Linked DNA regions of Homo sapiens. Each later gene encodes a partner of the first gene's protein in a complex. Each region holds a gene or a part of one and is shown on either strand. Other genes may lie near its edges. A codon is read from its position in the direction of its gene.

Evidence for each region. Proteins that work in one complex are often made in the same cells at the same time.
Region 2: the proteins of NUDC (region 1) and DNAJB1 are in contact, whole or in part, in a crystal structure (PDB 7NDX), measured with the Homo sapiens proteins. Residues at the interface, in NP_006591.1 of Homo sapiens: Pro102, Gln103, Ile104, Lys105, Glu106, Leu107, Ala112, Leu115, Gln116, Ile119; in NP_006136.1 of Homo sapiens: His166 (codon at 1,374), Lys181 (codon at 1,329), Lys182 (codon at 1,326), Met183 (codon at 1,323), Lys184 (codon at 1,320), Ile185 (codon at 1,317), Ser186 (codon at 1,314), Asp201 (codon at 1,269), Lys202 (codon at 1,266), Ile203 (codon at 1,263), Ile235 (codon at 1,167), Phe237 (codon at 1,161).

Annotation. Positions count from the first base shown.
Region 1 is NC_000001.11:26,917,931-26,924,757, forward strand, and holds the start of NUDC (nuclear migration protein nudC), read left to right. Parts: upstream 1-3,812; 5' UTR 3,813-3,918; coding exon 3,919-3,999; intron 4,000-6,158; coding exon 6,159-6,236; intron 6,237-6,827. UniProt on the Homo sapiens protein: Plays a role in neurogenesis and neuronal migration. Necessary for correct formation of mitotic spindles and chromosome separation during mitosis. Necessary for cytokinesis and cell proliferation.
Region 2 is NC_000019.10:14,515,389-14,522,299, forward strand, and holds the start of DNAJB1 (dnaJ homolog subfamily B member 1), read right to left. Parts: upstream 3,010-6,911; 5' UTR 2,962-3,009; coding exon 2,751-2,961; intron 2,550-2,750; exon of another isoform or gene 2,203-2,549; intron 1,659-2,202; coding exon 1,078-1,658; intron 783-1,077; coding exon 552-782; 3' UTR 1-551. UniProt on the Homo sapiens protein: Interacts with HSP70 and can stimulate its ATPase activity. Stimulates the association between HSC70 and HIP. Negatively regulates heat shock-induced HSF1 transcriptional activity during the attenuation and recovery phase period of the heat shock response.

The DNA.
Region 1 (6,827 bases):
GAGGGTCACTACTCCCAGTCCTTCCTAGAGCTAATGAATGTGTACACACACACACACACACACACACACATTTACAATTATATTTATTTCTATAATTATACATACTAAACAACATGAATTCAGACTATCATCTCCAATTCCAAGCTCATATCATGGGGTTCATTCTAGTTTTTGCCCCTTGTGTATTTATACTTCCTGTCTTTCACACCGAGGAATCTGGTGTCCATTATTCTTGATTTATCTTTTTTTTTTTTTTTTGAGACAGGGTCATGCTGTATCCCCCAGCTGCTGGAGCGCAGTGGAGTGATCTTGACTCACTGCAACCTCTGCCTCAGGGTTCAAGTGATTCTTTTTTTTTTTTTTTTTTTTGAGACGGAGTCTCACTGTCACCCAGGCCCAGAGGCCCAATCTCGGCTCACTGCAACCTCCGCCTCCCAGGTTCAAACAATTCTCCTGCCTCAGCCTCCTGAGTAGCTGGGACTACAGGCGCCTGCCACCAAGCCCAGCTGATTTTTCGTATTTTTTAGTAGAGATGGGGTTTTACCATTTTGGCCAGGCTGGTCTCGAACTCCTGACCTCATGATCTGCCCGCCTTGGCCTCCCAAAGTGCTGAGATTACAGGCATGAGCCACCGCACCCAGCTTTTTTTTTTTTTTTTTTTGAGATGGAGTTTTGCTCTTCTTGCCCAGGCTGGCGTGCAATGGCACAATCTCGGCTCGCTACAACTTCCACCTCCCAGATTCAAGAGATTCTCCTGCCTCGGCCTCCCAAGTAGCTGGGATTACAGGTTCCCACCACTATGCCTGGCTAAGTTTTTGTATTTTTAGTAGAGATGGGGTTTCACCATGTTAGGCAGGCTGGTCTCGAACTCCCGACCTCAGGTGATCCACCTGCCTCAGCCTCCCAAAGTGATAAGATTACAGGCGTGAGCCACTGCACCCAGCCTAAGTGATTCTTCTACCTCAGCCTCCCGTGTAGCTGGGATTACAGGCGCACACCACCACACCCAACTAATCTTTGTATTTTTAGTAGAGATGGTGTTTCACCATGTTGGCCGGGCTGCTCTTGAACTCTGGGCCTCAAGTGATCCACTTGCCTCGGCCTCCTAAAGTGCTGGGATTACAGGCATGAAATACCACATCCAGCTACTTTTTTTTTTTTTCCTTTGTTTGAGACAGGGTCTGGCTTTGTCACCCACGCTGAAGTGCAGTGGCGTGATCACAGCTCACTGCAGCCTTGACCTCCCAGGCTCAAGTGATTCTCCCATCTCAGCCTTCTGAGTAGCTGGGATTACAGGCTCCCACTGCCATGCCCCGCTAATTTTTTTTTTTATACTTTGAGTTCTAGGGTACATGTGCACAACGTGCAGGTTTGTTACATATGTATACATGTGCCATGTTGGTGTGCTGCACCCATCAACTCGTTATTTAACTCCGCTAATTTTTAAATTGTTTTGTAGAGACAGGGTTTTGCTGTGTTGCTATGTTTTGCAAGTGTTGGGATTACAGGCATGAGCCTCCGCAGTCGGCCTGGATCTGCTTCTTGTTCCACACATAAACTTGTTTCTTTCACTGCTCACATACTTCCAGTTGTCCTGGGAATCATTTATATTGGGATAAGACTTCTGATCCTGTACAGCAAGGGTCATGAGGTACAGCAAATGGTAGGAATATTCCTGGAAGCCCTTTCCACACACCAGGACAGCTCACAATGACTTAACTATACACAAAAGTGACTGCCAGCCACCCAGCTATATCCCACCAAATCAATCCAAACTGAGTGTATTTCCAACTCAACTTCACCTTAGCTGGATCACCAAATCCTCATGGCATCTCTGATATCACCTGATTCAAGGGAAAGTGAGATAGAGTGGGAAGAAATAGTAGTCTTAACCAATTGCAATTTTAGAATTTTGCTTTTGCATGTTAAAAGAAAAAAAAATATGTATTTGACGCTATGAAGACATTGCTGGGGTTGCTCCCAGTGCCTAGGATGGGCCCGTGCAAGTGCAAGGCCCTGCCCTCAAGAGCCCTCAGTCTGAGGGAGAAGACACAGATCAACTCCAGGAATCTCTAATCTAAAGGGAGAAGTCTCTAGTCTGAAGTGGGGAACACGCAATTCCAACCAAAAGAGAAACCTAAAGGAAAAAAGGAAAGAAGAAGGCGTCAACTGTGTCAAATGCACCTGAGAAGTTGAGTAAGATAATAGTGGTTCATTGGCTTTGGCAATATGTAGCACTGTAACCATATCAGAGCCTTTAAAAAATAGACTAGAACAGGCCGGGCGCAGTGGCTCATGCCTGTAATCCTAGCGCGTTGCGAGGCCGAGGCAGGTGGATCACTTGAGGTCAGGAGTTTGAAACGAGCCTGGCCAACATGGTGAAAACCCCTCTACTAAAAATACAAAAAAAAATTAGTTAGGCGTAGTGGTGCCTGTAATCCCAGCTACTTGGGAGGCTGAGAATCACTTAAACCTGGGAGGCAGAGGTTGCAGTGAGCTGAGATCGTGTCACTGCACTCCAGCCTGGGCAACAGAGTGAGACTTGGTCTAAAAAAAAAAAGAAGAATAGATAGACTAGAATATACTGTAGAGAGATGGGAGGTGAGGGAGTAGAAAAACAAGCAAACAAGTTTGCTGCAAATGAGAGCTGAAAATTGGAGAGGTAGCAGCAGAAGAAAGTGGGGCCATGGAATAATAATATAAAAACAGGGCTGGGCATGGTGGCTCACACCTGTAATCCCAGCACTTTGAGAGGCTGAGGCAGGAGGAGTGCTTGAGACCAGGGTTTGAGACTTAGCCTGGGCAACACAGACTCCATCTCTACCAAAAAACAAAAAACAAAAAACAAAAAAAAAAAAACAGCAGGGCGTGGTGATGTGAGCCTGTAGTCCCAGCTACTCTGGAGGCTGAAGTGGGGAAGATGGCTTGAGTCCAGGAGTTCAAGGCTGCCGTAAGCCAAGATGGTGCCACTGCACTCCAGCTTGGGTGACAATGCAAGAACCCCATCTCTAAAAACAAACAAAAAGATATTAAAGCGTGTTTGTAAATTGAAGGGAAGAAGAAAGATATTTGTGATGCATAAGCTAAAAAAAGGGATAATTAACAGGGATAGAGTTCCTGAAAAGACTAAGATGATGAGATTCATTGCACAAGTGGAGGGATTAGCTTGGATGGCTGGGTCCTGTCCCCGCATTAACAGAAGTGAAGGTCAATTTCAGCACCTGTCATAATTTCCTGGGCCCAGTGCAAAATGAAAATGTGGGTCTCCTTATTCCAAAATTATTAAGAATTTCAAGACTATAACAGAAGGCCATGAAATCAAGCGTGGAGCCTTTCTAAGCCTGGGTGCTGTGCGACTGCAATTTGTACTCCCATGAAGCTGGCCCTAGTCAAGTACGCAGTGAGGTCGATGAGGAGGAGGCTGTCCTGTGGTAAGTCCCTTCTAGGATTGGAAGAGATGAGTAAGGCTACTTTCAGCTTCACTGCTCTACAAGCTGGGGGGGTCGCTAGCAAGGGAGAGGGGCAAAACTTGTCCCTTTTTAACTTCCAACCCTGCCAGATTTGAGTCCAGGGCTTTCTAGAAGTCTCCACGGCATCGGGTGACCATAGCAACTCATGCCAAACTCTCGGGCCCACGGCTCCGCCTACCGCTTCGTGGACGCGCTTGTTGATTGGCTCCGAATGTCGACCAATGGTCGGCGAAGCGGGTTGCTTGCCGCACGGTCAATGGCCGCAAACCGGGAGGAAGGCGGGAAGAGAGGAGGTGGAGGCGGGCCTGGGCAGCCGCGCGCGTGCGTGTTTCCGGCTCCGCTGCGGAAGGCGGACGACTAGAGTCGTTGGGCCCGGCGCGACCCGCAGGAGCGTAGAGAGCGCGGGACTAGAGTGCAGAGCTCCGGGACGTGGATCGGAGCCGGCGCGATGGGCGGAGAGCAGGAGGAGGAGCGGTTCGACGGCATGTTGCTGGCCATGGCTCAGCAGCACGAGGGCGGCGTGCAGGAGGTAACGGCCCGCGCGGCGTCGGCCCACCCGGCGGCCTTGGCCACGCTCCTTCCGCCCTTCTCTGCCTTCGAGGGCTGAGACCCACCCCAGCGGCTCGCGGGCTTCTGGGATGCCCCTACATTCTCACTGCGCCCAGCTTCCGGCCTGGCCACCCGCCAGCAGGTCTCACCCGGTTCGCATCAGTCCCGGGCCCCCGGCGCCCCTCAGTAGTAGCAAATTATCGCATCCCTGAGCTTAGGATCCCCCTTTAGTTTCACATATGCCCCCACCCCCGTTTCCACTTTGATGGCGGCTTCCAAGGAGCATCCCTTAGTAAGAACCGTCGCAAATATCGTGATTTGGATCCACCAAGGCTTGGGGCGAGCCGTCGAATGTGTGTGGTAGGGGAGCGGGCTGATGTTAGCACGTGGTCTTGTTAGGCCTTGAATGGGGGAATAGGAGGCCTGTGTTCACGATTAGTTTCCACCACCTACCAACTTGGAACCTTTACATCTCTCCAAGCCTGAGTTTCCTTATCTGTGAGACAGCTGCGAATACCGGTTTCCAGAGAGTAGTTAAGAACCGTAAGTTCTCAGTAATAAGGCTTTTTCATTCAACAAGTATTTGTCGTGTGATTGATGTGTGTCCCACACTCGACAATAAGGGCCAACTGTTACAGATTCTGGAGTTGGTTTTTTTGGAACAAACACAAAGTTAACGGTAGAAAAGTCTGTCAGGATCAGAACTCTCATTCTCAGAGCCAGAGAAGTGGCAAGGATTTGCCTAGATCATGCAACATGGTTCTCACCTAGACAGGTCAGTGTGCTTCCCAGAGTCCATGGCTGATTGTGTCTTACTGGAGGTAGGTTTCCATTGAACTTTCTATTCCTATGTAACCTAGGTGTCTGGTGACCAAGGACTTCTAAGCCCTTTGTGGTGGGGAGAGTGTTTCTCATTTGCAAGTGTGAAAAGCCTTCCTGTCTCCATTCCTCTAAACTGTTCGCACAAAACTGGATTTGGGAGCGAGTTCATTTTTGAGCAAATTGAAAAACTGTCTAGAAGCAAGAACGGAAACCATTGAGATATGTTCTAGCATCAGATTTAATCAGATTTAGACCCACTCTTGGGCAAATAAAGGGTTTGTGTGTGCTGACCTTGAGTCACCACTAGATTGTTTCATTCAGCAAGAATTTTACTGATTATGTACCTTTAGCCATATCTGGTGCCCAGCATTGCAGGTGGCAGACAGACTAAGCCATGGTTCATGGTTCCTATTTGTAAGGTGTTTACCCTCTGCCAGTGGGTCTCTTGCTCTGTGCCATACATTGCTAAAGGCCTCACCTCCTTGACCTCATGATCCTCACCAGGTCCCTAGAAATAGGTACTGCATCTTATTCCTGTTGTACAGAGTTAAGAAACTTCTGCAAAGTCAAAAGGTAATATATGTCCATCTGATACTCAAACCGTTGGCTACACTTGTACTCCAGCCAGAATTAATCCATCTTATCCTCCTTTGAAGTGGCTTCATTTGCTCTCCTCCTTCTTGCTTTGACCCGGTAACTTAGCCAGTGTCTTTTTTTTTGTTTAGACAAGAGTCTCTCACCCAGGCTGGAGTGCGGTGGCACGATCTTGGCTCACTGCAACCTCTGCTTCCCGGGTTCAAGTGATTCTCTGCCTCAGCCTCCCAAGTAGCTGGGATTACAGGTGCCCACCACCTGTAATCTAGCTAATTTTTGTGTTTTTAGTAGAGACGGGGTTTCACCATGTTGGCCAGGCTGGTCTTGAACTCCTGACCTCAAGTGACCCGCCCACCTGAGCCTCCTGAAGTACTGGGATTATAGGTGTGAGCCAGTGTCTTGATGGGCTTTTTACTTTCTGGAGAGGAAAGCTGGGCCCAGGCTTTTCATGCCCTGGATGCAGAGGAGTGTTCCATACGCTTAGGCTGCTTCTAGCATCACAAGGAAAGTGAAAGGCGCACACACACACAGGATATGAGAAATCTGCTTCATGGTGGAAGTGACTAAGAGAACCTGCTGGGGAGATAATCTCCTCAGTTGGGAAGCTCAGAGGAAAAATAGTCAAGTCCCAAGTTCCCTCCTAGACAAAACAAGTTGACTTGTGTGCAGTTGAAGGGCTCCCAAATGCAGCTCTACTACTTTAATCTTCTCCCCCTCTTTCAGCTTGTGAACACCTTCTTCAGCTTCCTTCGACGCAAAACAGACTTTTTCATTGGAGGAGAAGAAGGGATGGCAGAGAAGGTAAGTGTTGGAAACCACTGTCCTTTGGGCGGCTCTGTCTCTTCAGAAGAAAAGCTCACCTGGCCTTTCTTTGGCATAATAGTAACTTTCAGCAGAAGCGAAATGCCAAAGGTGAGGAATTGGGGAAGGGAAGGAAGCTGTCATTTCTTCAAGCTCCACTCCTTGCTCAGCCCTCTATCTACCTTATTTCCCATGACTTTTGCAGTTCTACAAGAGGGGCAGGTGTTAACTATCCCCATTGAGGAAATTGGCTCAAGAGAATTTTGCACCTTATCCAAAGTCTTGAGCTGAGCTGTGGGAGAACCAGGGTTGAAACCAGTCTGTTGTAAACCTGTCCTCTGCCCCGACACAGTGCCTCTCAGTTCCTTTTCCAATGAGGAGGTTTTATTTATTTATTTATTTTCTGAGACAGAGTCTTGCTTTGTCACCCAAGCTGAAGCGCAGTGGCGCAATGTCGGCTCACTGCAACTTTCGCCTCCTGGGTTCAAGCAATTCTCCTGCCTCAGCCTCCTGAGTAAGTGGGATTACAGGCGCCCGCCACCACACCTGGCTAATTTTTGTATTTTGATAGAGACGAGGTTTCATCATATT
Region 2 (6,911 bases), on another chromosome or scaffold:
GTGGACGCCAACCAGGCAGTTCTGCAGGAATAGTTTAGGTTCTCAATTTGAGATGGCCAAAGAGAAGACAGAATTCTCCAGGAGAAGAGCAAGACATGGGAGACAAATACAGAATAAAGCACAAACTGATCACACAACAGAAAAGGAGGAGTGTACAGGGTCTGGGAATCAAGACTGCAGGTTGACATTATCTACCAGCCAGAAGCAAAAAGACACAGAGGGATCAAGTCCATCTGCTGGTCTGCCTCTCACCCCTGGCCAGGGACTGGAGGTGGATGTGGGCCCATCCCGGGAGGGCTGCCAGACCCAGTGGGGCAGACTGGAATGCCTTTTCCTGCTGTTCCCACCACCTGATGCCCTATAGCTCGAAAAACCACTGAAGTCTAGTGTGCGACTTTGAAAGATTGTAATATATGCTCTGGAAAACATTCAGCAGTACGAAAGCCCTCCCTGGGCCCTCCCACCCTCTCATGGTCCACAACTGGTAGAAAGGTCCAGAAATCCTTGAGCTCTGGAAAGGTCCCTGGTCAGTCCTTGGGGAGCTCAGATAGCTATATTGGAAGAACCTGCTCAAGTACGGTTCTTGATGTCTGGGGAATCCTTTCGGGGAAGATCACTTCAAACTCAATAATGAGGTCCCCACGTTTCTCGGGTGTTTTGGGGAGGGGGAGGCCTTCTCCAGGAACTTTTCGCCGCATGCCAGGCCTGATAACATCTTTGAATACGACGGGTATCGTCCTGCCGTCCAGAGTGGGGACGTTCACTGTGCAGCCACACAGAGCCTTGAAAAGCAAAAGGACAGCATTAGATGGAAGCTGGCTCAAGAGGCTCAGCTCTTGCCCAGAGGCCGTCTGCCATAGATAAGACCCATCAGGCCTCTGCAGCTAAGACCTGGCCCCCAAATCTACACGTCCCCACCACGAAAGCTCCACAACAGCGCCCTGGTCAGTCCTGTTCACTGTTGTGCCCCAAGCCTGGCACGCACCACACACCCCAACACATTGGTTCAGCAAATACTAAACTGCTTCAAAAAGCAGCCATCGCCCTCTACAGACACCGCCCCACCTGGCACCTTACCTCCCGGAGGCTGATCCTGGCAGGATAAATGACATCAGAGCCATCTCTCTTAAAGATATTGTGGGGCTTGTCCTTTAAAACAAAGACGATATCAGCTGGAATGTTGTTGGAGGTCTGGTCTCCTTCCTTGGGGAAAGTGATTTTGGTTCCTTCTTTCCACCCCTTCTTCACTTCGATGGTCAATATTTTGTCTTCGTTTCGAATGCTCTTTCCGTCGGGGTTTAGCCGCTTGTGGGAGATTTTCATCTTCTTGGTACAGCCGCTGTAGATCTCTTCAAGGGAGACTCGAAGGTCGTGGGTGACTGGGGGATCTTGCTTCTTTCGGGCGGGCTCTTGGGCAGAGCGGGAGCGGCCAAAGTTCACGTTGGTGAAGCCACCCATGCCCATAGGGAAGCCAGAGAATGGGTCATCAATGTCCATGCCTTCCTCCCCGTTCCGCTGCCCAAAAAAGGTGTCAAAGGGATTTCTGCCACCGAAGAACTCAGCAAACATGGCATGAGGGTCTCCATGGAATGTGTAGCTGAAAGAGGTACCATTGGCACCACCGCCGCTACCGCCACTGGGGCCACTCCCCTTTAGGCCTGAAAAGCAGATTTAGAAGCAGTCAGATGGCTGAACAGCAGACTCTCTCTCGAGCTTCCCTTACAGGGGGAAACAGCTTGGAAGCCATGGGGGAGGAACTTTTTTGTCTGTCAGGGGAGAGCAAGGAAGAACCCCAAGTTTCTACCTCTCACTGCCAACAGCAGAGACGCCCCCCTACCAACAGTATTTCCGCGTAGCCTGACAGTGGAAAAGGACTCATGCGGTTAGGTGTTCACCTCCAGGTGCCACCTAGGCCCTGCCACTCCTGGACTGACCCATCCTCCTGGCAACATCACCAAGAGATGGCTAAAGACACATGGTCCAGGGTCGGCTTTCGGTAAGTGTTTACTCTCAACGTTTTAGGGCTAATGGTGCGTAGGAAGAGAAGAAAAAAAAAAACAAAAATAAATAGGGAGTTTTTAAATCCTCACACATTAGCATTCACTGCCACCATCCTTGCACAAAAAGTCAGCTCCAGATCAAGCCCAGAAGCCAGCCTGAATCATCAACGGGCACAGGAACAAAAAGCCCTGCTCTCCTTACCCTCCGAGGCGGCCCCGCTCTCCGGACCTGGGCGGCCGCTGCCTCCTGCGTGCCCTGCCGGGGCCAGGTCATCACTTCCCGGGAATTATCCCAACCCAGCCCCCAAGCCCACGAACGGGGTCGGCTCCTGCATTCACAACCCCTCGCCCCGCAGCTGAGCCGGAGGCGCCGCCCCGCGGACCCCGGCGGCCGAGCCCAGGTGAGCCCGGGTCCGCAGCGGGCTCCGCCGCGCCGTCCCCGTCGTCACCCCCGGCTCCCCCACCCCCATGCACCGCACCCCGGGGCTGCTCGGGGCCGCGGGAGGAGGCGCCCGGGGAGGGGCAGCCCCAGACATGCTAGAAGCTTCTGGCCGAGCGGCTGGGCCAAGGCTCCTCCTCCCACCGCGCGGCCGCCAATCCGAGGGCGGAGGCCCGCGAGGCCGGAGGGCGGGGCAGCTCGGCCCCACGGCCCGGGGCGTCCTTCCCGGGGGGCCGCCGAGAGGGGCCAGCGTGCCTCAGTTTCCCTGTCTGTCAAAAGGCGGGGCCGCGCCCCTGGCCGCGAGCACACACCTTCCTCCCCGTAGCGGTCGAAGATCTCGCGCTTGCGCGGGTCGCTGAGCACGTCGTAGGCCTCAGCGATCTCCTTGAACTTCTCCTCGGCGCCGGGCTCCTTGTTCTTGTCCGGGTGGTAGCGCAGCGCCTGGCGGCGGTAGGCCCGCTTGATCTCCTCGTCCGACGCGCCGCGGGCCAGGCCCAACGTCTGGTAGTAGTCTTTACCCATGACCCCCTCCTGCGGCCCGCCGACCCGCTGTCGCCGTCCCCCGGCTCCGCCGCCGACCAGTCCCGGACTCTATATACCCGTCCGGCGGAAGCTTCCAGAGCCCGCCAGCCCCCTCCAGAACCTTCCGCCCCGCCCGCCCCCGCGGCGCCGGCCAATCGCCGCCGCCCTTTCAGCGACACGCGACATCCGGGGCGGGGCCTCGCCGTCAACGGCCGCCCGCGCGGGGCCACGCCCCCTCCCGCTCCGCCCTCGGCAACACCTCCCCGCGGCGCGCGCGCACAGGTCGGAGGAGGCCCCGCCCACCTTTCGGGACGAGCCAATCGCGACCTTCTTTCCCTCTCTACGCGGCCCCAGCTACCCTGCGTCCCGCCCTCCGCCTGGGTCAGTAGGTCGGGACCCACAGCGAACTTGCTGTTCCAGGAAGGGGTGGGGCCTGGGACTACCCAGTCCTTTCCCCGGGAGGCGATGAACCTGCTCGCCCTTGTCTCGTGGGGCCTGCGGTGGGCTCCCGCCCGGTGACGCCGGACGAACTACCTAACCTGTGTCTGCCTAACCCAGGGGCCCCCTTCTATCTACAACATGGCAATAAGAGAACCTATCAGGCCGGGCGCGGAGCCTCATGCCTGTAATCCCATCACTTCCTGAGGCCAAGACAGGAGGATCTCTTGAGCCTAGGAGTTGGAGACCAGCCTAGGCAACATAAGGAGACTCCGTTTCTATTTAAGATTAACAAACAGGCCGGGCGCGGTGGCTCACGCCTGTAATCCCAGCATTTTGGGAGGCCGAGGCGGGCGGATCACTTGAGGTCAGGAGTTCGAGACCAGCCTGGCCAACATGGTGAAACCCCATCTCTGCTAAAAATATAAAAATTACCCGGGCGTTGGTGGCACGAACCTGTAATCCCAGCTACTCAGGAGATTGAGGCCTGAGAATAGCTTGAATCGGGGAGGCGGAGGTTGCAGTGAGCCGAGATCCGGCCGTTGCACTCCAGCCTCGGCAACAGAGCGAGACTCCGTCTCATAAATAAATAAAATAAGTAAAATAAAGTAAAATGAACAAAAAACCCACCAGCGCTATTCTCCCAACCGTGGGGAGAAGGATTTTGGGACGGAAGACTGCCTCTGTTCTCACCTCCTAAAGCAAGGTGAGGATCTGGACGGAAGCGCATCTCCCAAGGTCCTCCCAGTCCCGCCTTCTTCCCTTTACTGCCCTCTCAAGATCACTTGCCGCTAAATTTGAAATTTATCTTGTCTCTTGGCTTTCAATGTGTCTTCCCTCCCAGTCTGACATCGCCACCTGGGCAGGGGCCAGGTCCTGTCTGCACTGGGTCCCCAGTGCCTGGAACGCAGTGAGAACCTCATAAATATTCCCCGTTCTTACACACGTGCTTCTTTTTCTTCCCCAACTACCTTTATAATTTGGGGGGACATAGGTGTGTCACACACCTTTCAAGGCCTCTGTTTCCTCAATTGTAGGCAACACGATCGCGTTTGGCTCTGAAAGTCTGGGGTGCCTCTGTCAAGGACAGAGCTGATGGGAAAAGGAGGCTCAGAAAGGGGTTCCACCTGGGAAGGGCCCAGGGAAGTGGGGGAGGTTCCTGGAAGAACTGCCTGGGAGGTCAGAGCCATGTAACACTGGCTCTGGAACCAGACAGCTGGGCTTCATTCCCAGCTCCAGCATTTCCCGGCTGGGTAACCTTGGGTTAGTTACTAGGCCTTTGCTGGCCTTAGCTTCCTCATCTGCACAATGAGGAATGAGGATAGCAGTTGTGCCCACATCATGAGGGCTTTGAAGTTTATATGAGTCAACATTTGCAAAGTGCTCAGAGCAGGCATGGCACAAAGGAAGCATTGTCAAAGGGGTGACTAACCATTTTCTTAGTGGTGGGCTCTTCAGCCATCACCTCATTCCTGGCAGCTAAAAGATTCCAGTGACAGCTGCCCCTGGGCAGACAGGGACTCCTGAAGAAGAAGACCATCCTCCTGCCTCCTGAGGCGGGAGGATCTCTTGAGCCCAGGAATTTGAGGCTGCAGGCAGCTATGATTGTGCCACTGCACTCCAGCCTGGGTGACAGTGAGACCCTCAGCCTCCCCATAAAAAAGTTACATAAATAACTATCAGGAGCATCATGGCGGATAGTTACATAAATAACTATCAGGAGCATCCAGCAGGCAGATCTGGTTCTCTTGGCCCACTCAATGATCTCTGAGGTAACTGCATCAGCAAGAACTCTGGACTAGAACTGGACAACCCGGGAGGATGGGGCTGAAATTCCCTAGACATCGAGAACCATACTTGAGCAGGGGTCCTGAAGCAATTATGGGGAGAGAGAACTTGATATTTTTTAAAAAGTTACTAGGCTGGGCACAGTGGCTCACGCCTGTCATCCCAGCATTCTGGGAAGGTGAGGTGGGAGGATCTTTTGAGGCCAGGAGTTCCAGCCTGGGCAACATAGTGAGACCCCATCTATACAAAAAATTAAAAATAAAAAAAATTAGCCGGGTGCAATGATGTGAGCCTGTAGTCCCAGCTACTCAGTGGACCAAGGTAGGAGGATAGCTTGAGCCCAGGAATTTGAGGCTGCAGTCAGCTATGATTGTGCCACTGCTCTCCAGCCTGGATGACAGTGAGATCCTGAACCTCCCCATAAAAAAATTATATAAATAACTATCAGGAGCATTATGGGGAAAAACTCAGAGCTTGTGACTTTATAAACTAGTATTTTATAATATAAATTTAATTTAGAATTACAAGTGCAGCAGCCTCCAAAGGCTTTAACATGGCTCTGGGTGGGCCTTTCTGGTTGTTCTAAAGTTTCTTGCCATAGGCCAGGCACGGTGACTCAACGCCTATAATCCCAGCACTTTGGGAGGCTGAGGCAGGTGGATCACCTGAGGTCAGGAGTTCGAGACCAGTCTGGCCAACGTGGTGAAACCCCGTCTCTACTAAAAATACAAAAATTAGTCGGGTGCGGTGGCAGGTGCCTGTAATCCCAGCTACGCTGGAGGCTGAGGCATGAGACTCGCTTCAACCCGAGAGGCAGAGGTTGCAGTGAGCCAAGATCGTGCCACTGTGCTCCAGACTGGGTGACAGAGTGAGAGTTTCAAAATAATAATAATAATAATAATAATAATAATAATAAAAGTTTCTTGACACACTGGAGGGGAACATTTTGCTAAAAACACTGCGGAAGGGATGTCTTTGTGCTTGGGGTCAGTGTTAGAGCTGGGAACTCTCCCCTCCTTGAGTAAGCCTGGGTCATGTTCAGGAAGTTTTGTTTGTTTGTTTTGAGATGGAGTTTCACTCTTGTAGCCCAGGCTGGAGTGCAGTGGCACGATCTCAGCTCACTGCAACCTCCGCCTCCTGGGTTCAAGTGATTCTCCTGCCTTAGCCTCCCAAGTAGCTAGGACTACAGGTGCTTGCGACCATGCCTGGCTAATTTTTGTAGTTTTAGTAGAGATGGGGTTTCACCATGTTGGCCAGGCTGGTCTTGAACTCCTGACCTCAGGTGATCAACACGCCTTGATCTCCCAAGGTGCTGGGATTACAGGCGTGAGCCACCACGCCCAGCCAGTTCGGGAAGTTTTAATTTTTTTTTTTTTAATCAGTTCTAGGAGCCAGGAAATTAAACAAACAAACAAACCCAGTAACTCTCTCCTAATGGACATGGTACTGTGACCTGAACACTCACTGAGAACTTCAGAATATTACTGAAAAAATGGCCTCTGCGTCAACTTCAGCAGATATTGGGCTCTTAACTTGGAAAAGCTGTTATAGTTGTTTGTTGTGTCAGCGTGGCTAAGCTCTAGAACCTAGTTATTCAACTAAACACTAATCTAGGTGTTGCTGTGAAGTTATTATGTTGATGCGGTTAGGTTAGCACGTCTACAGTTGCTTGACTTTAAAAACAGGACATGACCCTCAAGGATGTGAGGATGTAAGCGGGCCTC